Linked DNA regions of Homo sapiens. The protein of the gene in region 1 purifies or fractionates together with the protein of each later gene. This does not show direct contact. Each region holds a gene or a part of one and is shown in the gene's direction. Other genes may lie near its edges.

The links. The genes of interacting proteins can lie anywhere in the genome.
Region 2: the proteins of ARHGAP26 (region 1) and CA2 purify together in Homo sapiens (affinity purification with mass spectrometry; one large-scale study listed by BioGRID and IntAct). This does not show direct contact.

Annotation. Positions count from the first base shown.
Region 1 is NC_000005.10:142,768,184-142,773,796, forward strand, and holds the start of ARHGAP26 (rho GTPase-activating protein 26), read left to right. Parts: upstream 1-2,193; 5' UTR 2,194-2,578; coding exon 2,579-2,732; intron 2,733-3,043; exon of another isoform or gene 3,044-3,146; coding exon of another isoform or gene 3,147-3,192; intron 3,193-5,613. UniProt on the Homo sapiens protein: GTPase-activating protein for RHOA and CDC42. Facilitates mitochondrial quality control by promoting Parkin-mediated recruitment of autophagosomes to damaged mitochondria.
Region 2 is NC_000008.11:85,476,688-85,481,246, forward strand, and holds part of CA2 (carbonic anhydrase 2), read left to right. Parts: intron 1-432; coding exon 433-588; intron 589-3,982; coding exon 3,983-4,102; 3' UTR 4,103-4,559. UniProt on the Homo sapiens protein: Catalyzes the reversible hydration of carbon dioxide. Can also hydrate cyanamide to urea. Stimulates the chloride-bicarbonate exchange activity of SLC26A6. Essential for bone resorption and osteoclast differentiation.

The DNA of each region.
Region 1 (5,613 bases):
GCAGTGAGGGCAACTAAAAGTGTCTTTTTTCCTTGCCTGCTGGTTTCTGCTGGCTGCTTCACTGAATCCCGTTTGGAATGAATCCTGGTTTGATCAGTGGGGTTGTGATTGGAAAACAAGTCCTGCAGGCCTCTCACCTCACAAGGCTAGGTCATAAAAGGTGATGCACCTTTCTCCTTGTGAGCTGTATATGTTCACACTGGAGCCTTAAGGCTGCCATACTGGGAGGAAGCCTAAACTGGGCCACAGAGAAAGGCCATATGGAGAAGCCCTGAGTCTACCTGAAAAGTGGGATGCCCAGCTAACCATCCACTCCTCCAGCTCCTGTCACCATCCAACTGCAATCACATGAGAGACCTCAAGCCTTTGGCTTCCCTAAATTTCTAACCCACAGAGATTGTGAGAGAAAATAAAATGATTGCTGTTGTCTTAAACCATTAACTTTTGGTATCATTTATTCTGTATTAATAGATAACCAGAACACCTACCTTTAGGTGCTCAAGATAAAGCATTAAACAGATTTACTTTCATAGGGTTTCCATTCTAGATCTTTCTCATCTTTGGCAAGTGAAGAACAATTGTTTTTGGGTTGTAATTATCTATCAGATAGCTGTCTGGACCTGCTATCAAGTCTAAATTTGTAGATACACCTATCAAAGAGATCACATTCACTTATTTATACATTTACTTATTTATTTTACAATTTTTTGTAGAGATGGGGGGGGTCTCGCTGTGTTGCCCAAGATGGTCTTGAACTCTTGACCCCAAGCAATCCTCTCACCTGGCCTCCAAAAGTTATGGATTACAGGTGTGAGCCACCATGCTCCATTTATGAATTTAATACATTAATTGCTTTCTTAATATAGATGGGACACCTCTGACCCCTCCTGAGTGAAAAATCCATGTTCCCAAGCACCCAGGCCTTCTATCCTATCACAAGGCATGGTTATCGCTTGTTTGCTTCCATCTCACCTAATACCACCAGCAGCTAAATTCATTCTGTTATTCATCTTTGTATTCTTACCATCTAGGCTAGTGCCTGCACATAGCAGACCTATTTAAAAAACAAACCAACCCAAACAAACATGAAGCCCCCACGTAGCTGAAGGAGGGCTGCTGGTTCCTAGACATAGAGATAATTTATTCAAGGACAGTCCCTATCCTCCAGGAGTTAACAATTCAGCACTAGACACCCTGTGGGACCCAGCCTGACAAGTGCAACGAGTGAGATGCCAGAATTGAGTCCTGCGGTCGAACAGAGGGACTACAGGGCAACGCACTGGGCGTGGGAGGTGGAGATGGCTCTGGGAAAGGATCCATTCATTTATTCTACATTTATCAATCACCGTAGCACACACAGCACATAGTAAGTGCTCAATATCTGTTATTAAATGCCAGCCACTGTGCTAGGTGCCAGGATGCAACAGCGGACAAGAAAATTGCAGGGGCACTTGCCCTCGTGGGGCTTACCGTGTAGCGAAGGATGACAGGCAGTAGACTGTCATCTTATTATGTAAAATTGTGCTAGATGCAGAGCAGGAAAATAACAGGCGGCTGAAATTCTAGTAATGATGTGAGCTCCTTCGGCTGAGGGGAACCGTGGGCGGGTTCTGAGCAGGAGTGGCCGTGAGGGGGACGGACCGTAGGGGGCGGGAAGACTGCAGGCAAGAGCTGGTAATTTTAAGATGCAAATAACATTTTTCTGCCTGACTGGAAGAGGAGCGTTTGGTCGCTCGGGATTCTCCCGGAGCAGGGGGCTGTATTTTGAGTGTAAAATCGGTTGCCCCGCAGTGCAGGGCAGGCGGTGGTGAACTGCAGCCCTAGTCCCCAGGTTTTTCATGCTTGGCACATCGAGGCTCTTCGGCCCCCAGGACCAGCAGACTCGCCATGCGTGGCTCGGATTCGGGCTGGAGCAGGCGGGCAAGGTAGCGGGGGCGGGTGCACAGCAACGCTCACCCCTAGGTTTCGGGGTCTGCAACGCTGGGAGGGCAAGAGGAGGCGGAGTTTGCGCTGCGGACCTAGGCGTTGGCGAGGGCCACGCCCCCAGCCGCAGACCCTGCCTCCAGGCCCCTTTGATTGGATCAAGACCGCGGAAGGGCCGGGCGTCCTCGGGCGGCCTGAGGGTCGGGCAGGGGAGGGTGCGCTGATTGGCCCGGCGGGGATTAAGTCATCGCTAGCAGGTTCGAGCGGCCCAGACACCGGCGGGGCGGCCGAGGCTGCTGTGAGAGGGCGCTCGAGGCTGCCGAGAGCTAGCTAGCGAAGGAGGCGGGGAGGCGGCGTCTGCACTCGCTCGCCCGCTCGCTCGCTTCCCGGCGCCGCTGCGGGTCCGCGCTGCGTTTCCTGCTCGCGATCCGCTCCGTTGCCCGCGCCCGGAACAGCAGCACCTCGGCCGGGTCCGAGCTCGGTTCGGGAGTCTTGCGCGCCGGCGGACACCGCGCGCGGAGTGAGCCAGCGCCACACCTGTGGAGCCGGCGGCCGTCGGGGGAGCCGGCCGGGGTCCCGCCGCGTGAGTGCTCTGGGCGGCGGGCGGCCCGGGCCCCGGCGGAGGCGCGCCCCCCGGCTGGGCGCCGCGCGCACCATGGGGCTCCCAGCGCTCGAGTTCAGCGACTGCTGCCTCGATAGTCCGCACTTCCGAGAGACGCTCAAGTCGCACGAAGCAGAGCTGGACAAGACCAACAAATTCATCAAGGAGCTCATCAAGGACGGGAAGTCACTCATAAGCGCGCTCAAGAGTGAGTGTCCCGAGCCCCTCGGGGACGCGGCTCCGGGGCGGGAGGAACTGGGAGGTGGCGCTTAGCCCGGGTTGCCCGCGCGTCTGCCGGGTTTCTGCTCCCGGTACACTGGGGGACGGGTGTCGACGCCTCCGAGGCAGGAAGGATACGTAAAGCGGGCGAACCAGCAACCATCAGATGAAGAGAGAGACCCGTCGCTCCGCCTTTTGCGTTCAGGGATGGTCGGGAGGTGACCCAGCGCGGGTGGTGCTCTGGGGCAGCGCGGGTGGGCGTGGGCGTGCGCGGCACGCAGGTGTCCCAGCAGTGGGGCCAGAGTGCCGAGCGCGCCGCAGCCAGCGGGCAGATCCCATCGTGTCCACAGCTCCAGCTCCCTTAGGGGCAGAGTTGCTCAGCCTTGAGTGCCCAACCGTGAGAATGGAGCGTGCCCTGCCGAGGGGGCGCTGCCTCCCCTTGGGAAAAGGTGGGTTGTGACTGCTTCGCTCCCTGTACGCAGCTCCAGCCTAGTCAGGCCGCCGGGTTCCCTGGGTGGAATGCTTGGTTAGCTTGCGATTCCTTGGAGTATTGGCAGCCAGTAATCTCTAAATCTGGAATCAGTACGTGCGCAGGTTCTGATTCTTGTGTTTAGCAGAAGGTGATAGGGGTGGGAGTAGAGAATCAGAGTGTTCCTTTACTCTAAACTGTGGGCGAGGGTTTAAAAATAGAATGTACATATCCCAACTCTCTCCCTCTCCTGCTCCCAAGCTCTCCTTTTTACCTCTTCCGTTATCCTTGTAAAGGTCTGAGAAGGAATATCCATAATTCTCAGAAAGAAGTTCAAACGTATTTCAAAGATTCTTGGACCTTTTGTAAAACCATTTTTGCGTTTTTTCCTTTTGGTACAAGGGGAGAGATGCAATTTTGCATTCTGCTTCACTTTTGCAGAGCCAGAGAGTTTCTTTTTCTGGCCAAATAAGCGTGCTCTAGGGATGAGTGCTTTGGATTGTGAGAACGTTTTTGGTGCCTTTTCAGTCTCCCCATTTAAAAATAGCTCAGTCCATCTTTTAGTTTTAAGAATCAGGAACCACATGAAGGCAGATAGTGGAATTGTCTCTGACTCTGTTACTGTATCTGTTTCTGTGATGGATTTCTTAGTAGGTGATACCTTTCAGCTAAGAAATCTTGCCTTAGCAGAGTAGAGTCGTAGCTGTGGGAATTGTTCCCAGGCCTCTTTAAAGGGCACTTACAAAAGTCAGGTGCCTGAGATGTCATTTTGTCAGCTTGTTGCTTCTAAAAATGAAGAGAGAGACAATGGAATGCCAGGGCAGCCCAAAGTGCCAATCTTTTGGGATGAAATGAACACAGGACTGTGATGTGATGAGGCTTCTTAGAGGCAGATTCTTAGGCTGTGCCTTACCTGAAACATATGAACAGACCCTTCCTTTGTCAATAATCAAGGCCATTCTTGGTTTAGGGGATGGGGGTCCCTGGTTTGGAGTAAGTTAGGGGCCCACTTACAGGTTGGGCCCAGGAATTTTGATTGAACCTCAGGCTGGCTTTAGTGAGTTCTCTGCTTCACTCAGCAAACTTTTGGTGTGATTGTGGTGTACTGGGTACTGCACTGGGCACTAAGGGTGTAGGAGTGAATATTTTGCTGCTCCTGTGCTTACAGAGGTGTACTTCATTCCAGGCACTGCTTCACATATAATTATCTCATGTGCTTAGATTCATTCTGCAAATGAGAAAACAGAGACTGGGGGAAGCATTACCTCTGAGTCACACAGCTCTAGCAGCAGGACCAGAGCTTTTGAATCCACCTGGTTTGAGCCAGAGATGGAGTCCCTGCCAGTGCAGAGCTCTTGACTTCTGCCCCATCTCACTTGCCCGGAATGGAACCTCTTGCACCAAGCCCTAGAATTTGGACTTGTGTTTTCTATTTTGGCATTGAATCTGAGGAGGGTGCGTTTGGGTGACTGGCAGTTTTCCTACCACTAGTTTTTGGGGGCAAGAATTCTTTGGTAGGAAGAAACATTGCAGTGATAGAGTTGAAGTGTTATTTAAGCTGTCTAATGGAATGGATCAGCCCTGTAATCTGGAGGAAAGACTGATGGGGATCTCGGTGTTCTGTTCTCTCTACGTCCAGCTCTGCTAATGTATTCTACCACTACTAACTACTACTTGATCAGGTCAGGTGACCTCTAAAAATAGAGGGTGGAGTCAACCATTGTGTCCTGGATTTCAGACATTCCGATATCATGAGATGCTTGCTGCGTGGTATACTACTATATTAATGTTTGTGTATTATTTTTCTTCAGTCATGTTTATTATATCTATAAACAGAAGTGTTTTCCCAGTACAACTTAAACATAAATACATAATTATATAAACACTGGGTTTAGATAATCTATGTTCTCTTATAGCTCTAAACTTTTGTGGCTTTATTTTATAGCCATATTTTATTTTATTTTACAGTTATTTTATAACTAGTATTTCTAGCTCTTTGGATTTAACTTGGTTTTGAGTGTTAATCATAGGCAATAAAACTGTCCTCTAGGGATTGCCAAAGTTCAGGTAGATCATTGTTACTATTACTTCCACTTTATGAATGAGATGCTGGCAATGGAGATGCAAATTCTTTATAGATCTAGATCCCGTAAAGGAGAAACATGCAGCAGGTGCTTGATTAAGTGAAAACATTGCCAGTTGTTTTTTAGACTCCGAGCCCTGGGTAGCAAAGACCAGCTAAGATTTTGTATTATCCTCTGAAGTTTTGGAGTTCTTTCTCCATCACGGGCTTTGAAGGCTAGAGGGACAGATGAGAGTGGCTGAATATGTCTTGGCTTTGTAAAGCAGCAGAGTTTCTTTTGGGGGTAGCACTGAATGATTATCAGTGATTGTCTTTTCA
Region 2 (4,559 bases), on another chromosome or scaffold:
AAACAGAATGTAGTTATTTGATTCTGACCTAGAGCAAGAAAATCACCTCCTCATCAGGATACCATATTTCTGTTATTGCAACTTGAAGTCACCTCATTTTAGTGGCAGCAGTCTCACTTTAAATACTGGGTGTGATCAGCTAATGACTTAATGGGGAATGTAAGGGATCATTTTAGATAAAAGGCCAAGATGAAAAATGGACATGTGAAAATAGTTTTTTTTTTTTTTTACTACGACTTGCCACATATTTTCAAGTTGAATGTCTTCTGTTAATTTCTCTTTATTTTGTTTGCCAGTGAATATAGAACCTCTTTTTTAAAAAGTGTTTTTGACCATCAGAGGGGAGTATACCTATTTGTGTCTGCTGCTCTCCTACCTTCCTCCTACTCTGTCAATGTGATAGTTTGAAGCTGCGTATTTGCCTTGTTCTAGGGCAAGAGTGCTGACTTCACTAACTTCGATCCTCGTGGCCTCCTTCCTGAATCCTTGGATTACTGGACCTACCCAGGCTCACTGACCACCCCTCCTCTTCTGGAATGTGTGACCTGGATTGTGCTCAAGGAACCCATCAGCGTCAGCAGCGAGCAGGTTTGTTTTGTAATGACAGGTCTGTTTACGGGTGGAGCATTTAGTCAAGGCAGAAGACCTTGGCCTCCAGAGTGAGAGAGAACTGAGATTTAATCCTTCTCCTGCTACTTCTTGCTATGGAAATAGTGCCTTTGATGGTGCCTAGCAAATAAACAGCGTTCAGTAAATCTTTGTTGTTATTAACTATAAACTTAGTTCGTTTAGTCTCTAAAATTGAATAGTCATTGTAAGGATTCAATGAGAAAGATGTCTGTCACCTAATAAATGCCTTTTTTTTTTTTTGCCAGTTATGAGGAAACTAAGGCTTAGAAAAGTGAGAGTTCATATTCAAGGTTACGCAGGTATCAGTGAGTTACCAGCCTACTACTCACTCACATAAGGGCTTTCTGCTATTTTATTTATATCAGAATGCATTTCTGAATCCTGACAGATGAGAGTCATCCCTTGGAGAACATGTATCTATTAAAACTCACTCCAGGTTGCTTTAGAGGCTTAGAGCAGGTATTCTTACATTTCCAATAAAATATAGTGTGTGATCGTCAAGTGATTAGTGCAGCTTCTAAGTCACTGATGAGCAGCCACTAAAGTGGATACAAATGAGTTTTTCCTAGACTTACCTCTTAGCGCACAGTTGAAATGTAGAAAGTGAACATTCCTTAGGATTCACAAGAGGATGGATCCTGAATAATTTAAGGATAGCTTTAGGAGCCAACAGTCTTGAAAATGGTAACTATGTGAGTAGTGGTAGTGTGATTTAAACCTACAAAAATGCTGAATAATAGAGGTTTAGAGCTGCAATGTGCAATAGAGATCATGTTGTCCAACTTTCTCATTTCACTGGCTTGAATCACATTGATCAACAGTCTGAGATGCAGGAAAATTGAAGTGTTTTCCACTCAGCTACCTTGCAACAGAATCAGGCCTGGGAGCAAGGATTCTATTCCTGTGTCCTCCCTTAGAATATGAACTTATGAATGCTGAAGATACTTCATATCTTTCTTTAAAGGAAATATGTATCTGACTGGAAAATTACTTGTAGCATATCAAAGTGGGCCTAAAAAATAGCATGCTTGGTATGTCACTTGAAGATTGACCTTGTAGTAATAACATATTTGAGTAAGCTTCTTGAAGTGTAGCGTAAGGAAAGATTATAATGCCCTTCTTTTTGTAGATGCAGTGTTTACATTATAATTTAAAACATGAATTTTTTTTTCTTCTTTCACTGAGAGCAATGCAACTTTAAAGCAATAGTCTGACATTTAGAGCCATTATAACAAATGGATTTATGGTGTATACACACCCACAGGCAGAAATACACATATAGATAAGGGCAGTTGAACCTACTGCATTAATCCCTGTACCCTGAGTTTGCTCTTTAAAGTTGAAAGTGGTATTAAACTAATGATGTTAATTGTATATATTGGCAAAATACCAATAGGGCTCTTTTTTTTGTCCTATAACATGGAATCTGGAGGAAGGATCATGCTCAGCTCAGGAAGCTAGGGCTGCAGGTCCTCCTCTATCTGAGTCCCTTGACTTGGCCTTGCCAATTGGTGACTTCATCCTCAAGGTGGTTGTAATAGCATTTTGAGCATCACATCTAGATATAACCACTTCTTGAGGAGGAAATGAATACCTCTTCCATTGGCTTCCTAAGAGCAGAGAAGCTCTTTCCTGAAGGCCCCTAGAAAACCTTTCACTTCTCACTGGCTAGAATTGTGTTTCTTGCTCAGTCCCTAGCCCGGGAATGTGATCATCACAGTCAGTTAAGACCTGCAGGTTTACCCCACTGAGGCTTACAGGGAGAGGGCGGATGTCTGTTAATGAGGAAGTATGGGGGGGCGTGGATTTTAGGTAAGCAGTATAAATGGGTCTGCTAATTCTGCTACCTTTATTTTCTATACCCAGGCTCTGTCTCTGTGATGCTAAAACAATGAGTCAAGTTGACTAATGTGACAGTGTAGTTTAATTGGTGCAGTGAGTAGCAGAAATCGGTTATACTGGTTTGATCAAAAGTTTGACCTGTTTACACTTTATGAACAGACTCTCTTTCAGATTGCTGGAATTCTGTTGTAACGAATCAACCCTATATATCCTTAGAATGCTCCCTTGCATTCAGTAACCATAGCTGTGCATGTTATAATGTATGTGCATGGAAGGTGGCTCTACGGGGGTGATTGAGGGACTATTACTGGACAAAAGAGATCAGGTTAAAGGCTGTTGATTCATGGGCTGCTATATTACTGTCCAAACCACCCTTTTGCATTTGGATCACGTCTTGGTTAGAGGGGGGAAAGTAGCACTTTTTGAGAACCTTGAAGAAGTGGGAGACTGTTCAACAGCTGCCTGTATCTCAGTGGTGGCCAGTAAACTGAAACAAGTTTATAAGGGAATAAAAATCAACCAGTGACAAGGGGTTCTAATGTTAAATGCATATATTGGCAAAATGCCAGTAGGGCTATGTAGGGTGGTGAGCACTCACAATTGTTCACTAAAATGCTGTTTTTAAAACAGGAAAGTAGAATGGTTGAGTGCAAATCCATAGCATGAGATAAATTGAGCTTCTTAAGGCAAATCAGCCTAGGCAAATTCATTTCCGTGTTTTTGTGTATTTGGAGATGCCAGCTCGTCACTCAGCCCATGGAGCTTACAGGTCCTGATCACTTGATCTAATTGTATGGATGTGGTAGTTTGTCTTCCCTGGGGCAGAAAACAAAGCTTTAATTTGGAACTAAAATTGTTATTATTTTGCATCTAAAGGTATGAGTTTATAGACTTTTGATGTTAGATTTTTAAATTAGAAGGTCACTGAAAATTTCCCTTAAAAATGACCCCAACGAATTTGTGTATTTTGTATAAATTGGTTTGTTATATTAAAGCATACATACATAATCTATATGTGATTATGTATTCATTAGGAATCAAACTGAATTTTGGCCATTGATGCACAGCACTGAATGTTGTGGAATGTAATTTTTGTTTGTTTTTGTTTCTGTTTTTTGAGGCAGAGCCTTGCTCTGTCGCCTAGGCTGGAGTGCAGTGGCGCAATCTCAGCTCATTGCAATCTCTGCCTCCAGGGTTTAAATGATTCTTGTGCCTTAGCCTCCTGAGTAGCTGAGATTACAGGTGCTCTACCACGCCTGTTTAATTTTTGTGTGTGTGTGTGTGTGTTTTTTTTTTTGTAGAGACAGGGTTTCACCATGTTGGCCAGGCTGGTCTCGAATTGCTGACCTCAAGTGATCCACCCGCCTCATGCCTCAGCCTTACAAAGTGCTGGGATTACAGGCATGAGCCACTGCGCCTGGCCGGGGAATGTATTTAAAGATATAACACAAGTATATAACTGAATACCATTGTGAAACATTAATTATCAATGTTTTATTGTGTCTTTTAGGTGTTGAAATTCCGTAAACTTAACTTCAATGGGGAGGGTGAACCCGAAGAACTGATGGTGGACAACTGGCGCCCAGCTCAGCCACTGAAGAACAGGCAAATCAAAGCTTCCTTCAAATAAGATGGTCCCATAGTCTGTATCCAAATAATGAATCTTCGGGTGTTTCCCTTTAGCTAAGCACAGATCTACCTTGGTGATTTGGACCCTGGTTGCTTTGTGTCTAGTTTTCTAGACCCTTCATCTCTTACTTGATAGACTTACTAATAAAATGTGAAGACTAGACCAATTGTCATGCTTGACACAACTGCTGTGGCTGGTTGGTGCTTTGTTTATGGTAGTAGTTTTTCTGTAACACAGAATATAGGATAAGAAATAAGAATAAAGTACCTTGACTTTGTTCACAGCATGTAGGGTGATGAGCACTCACAATTGTTGACTAAAATGCTGCTTTTAAAACATAGGAAAGTAGAATGGTTGAGTGCAAATCCATAGCACAAGATAAATTGAGCTAGTTAAGGCAAATCAGGTAAAATAGTCATGATTCTATGTAATGTAAACCAGAAAAAATAAATGTTCA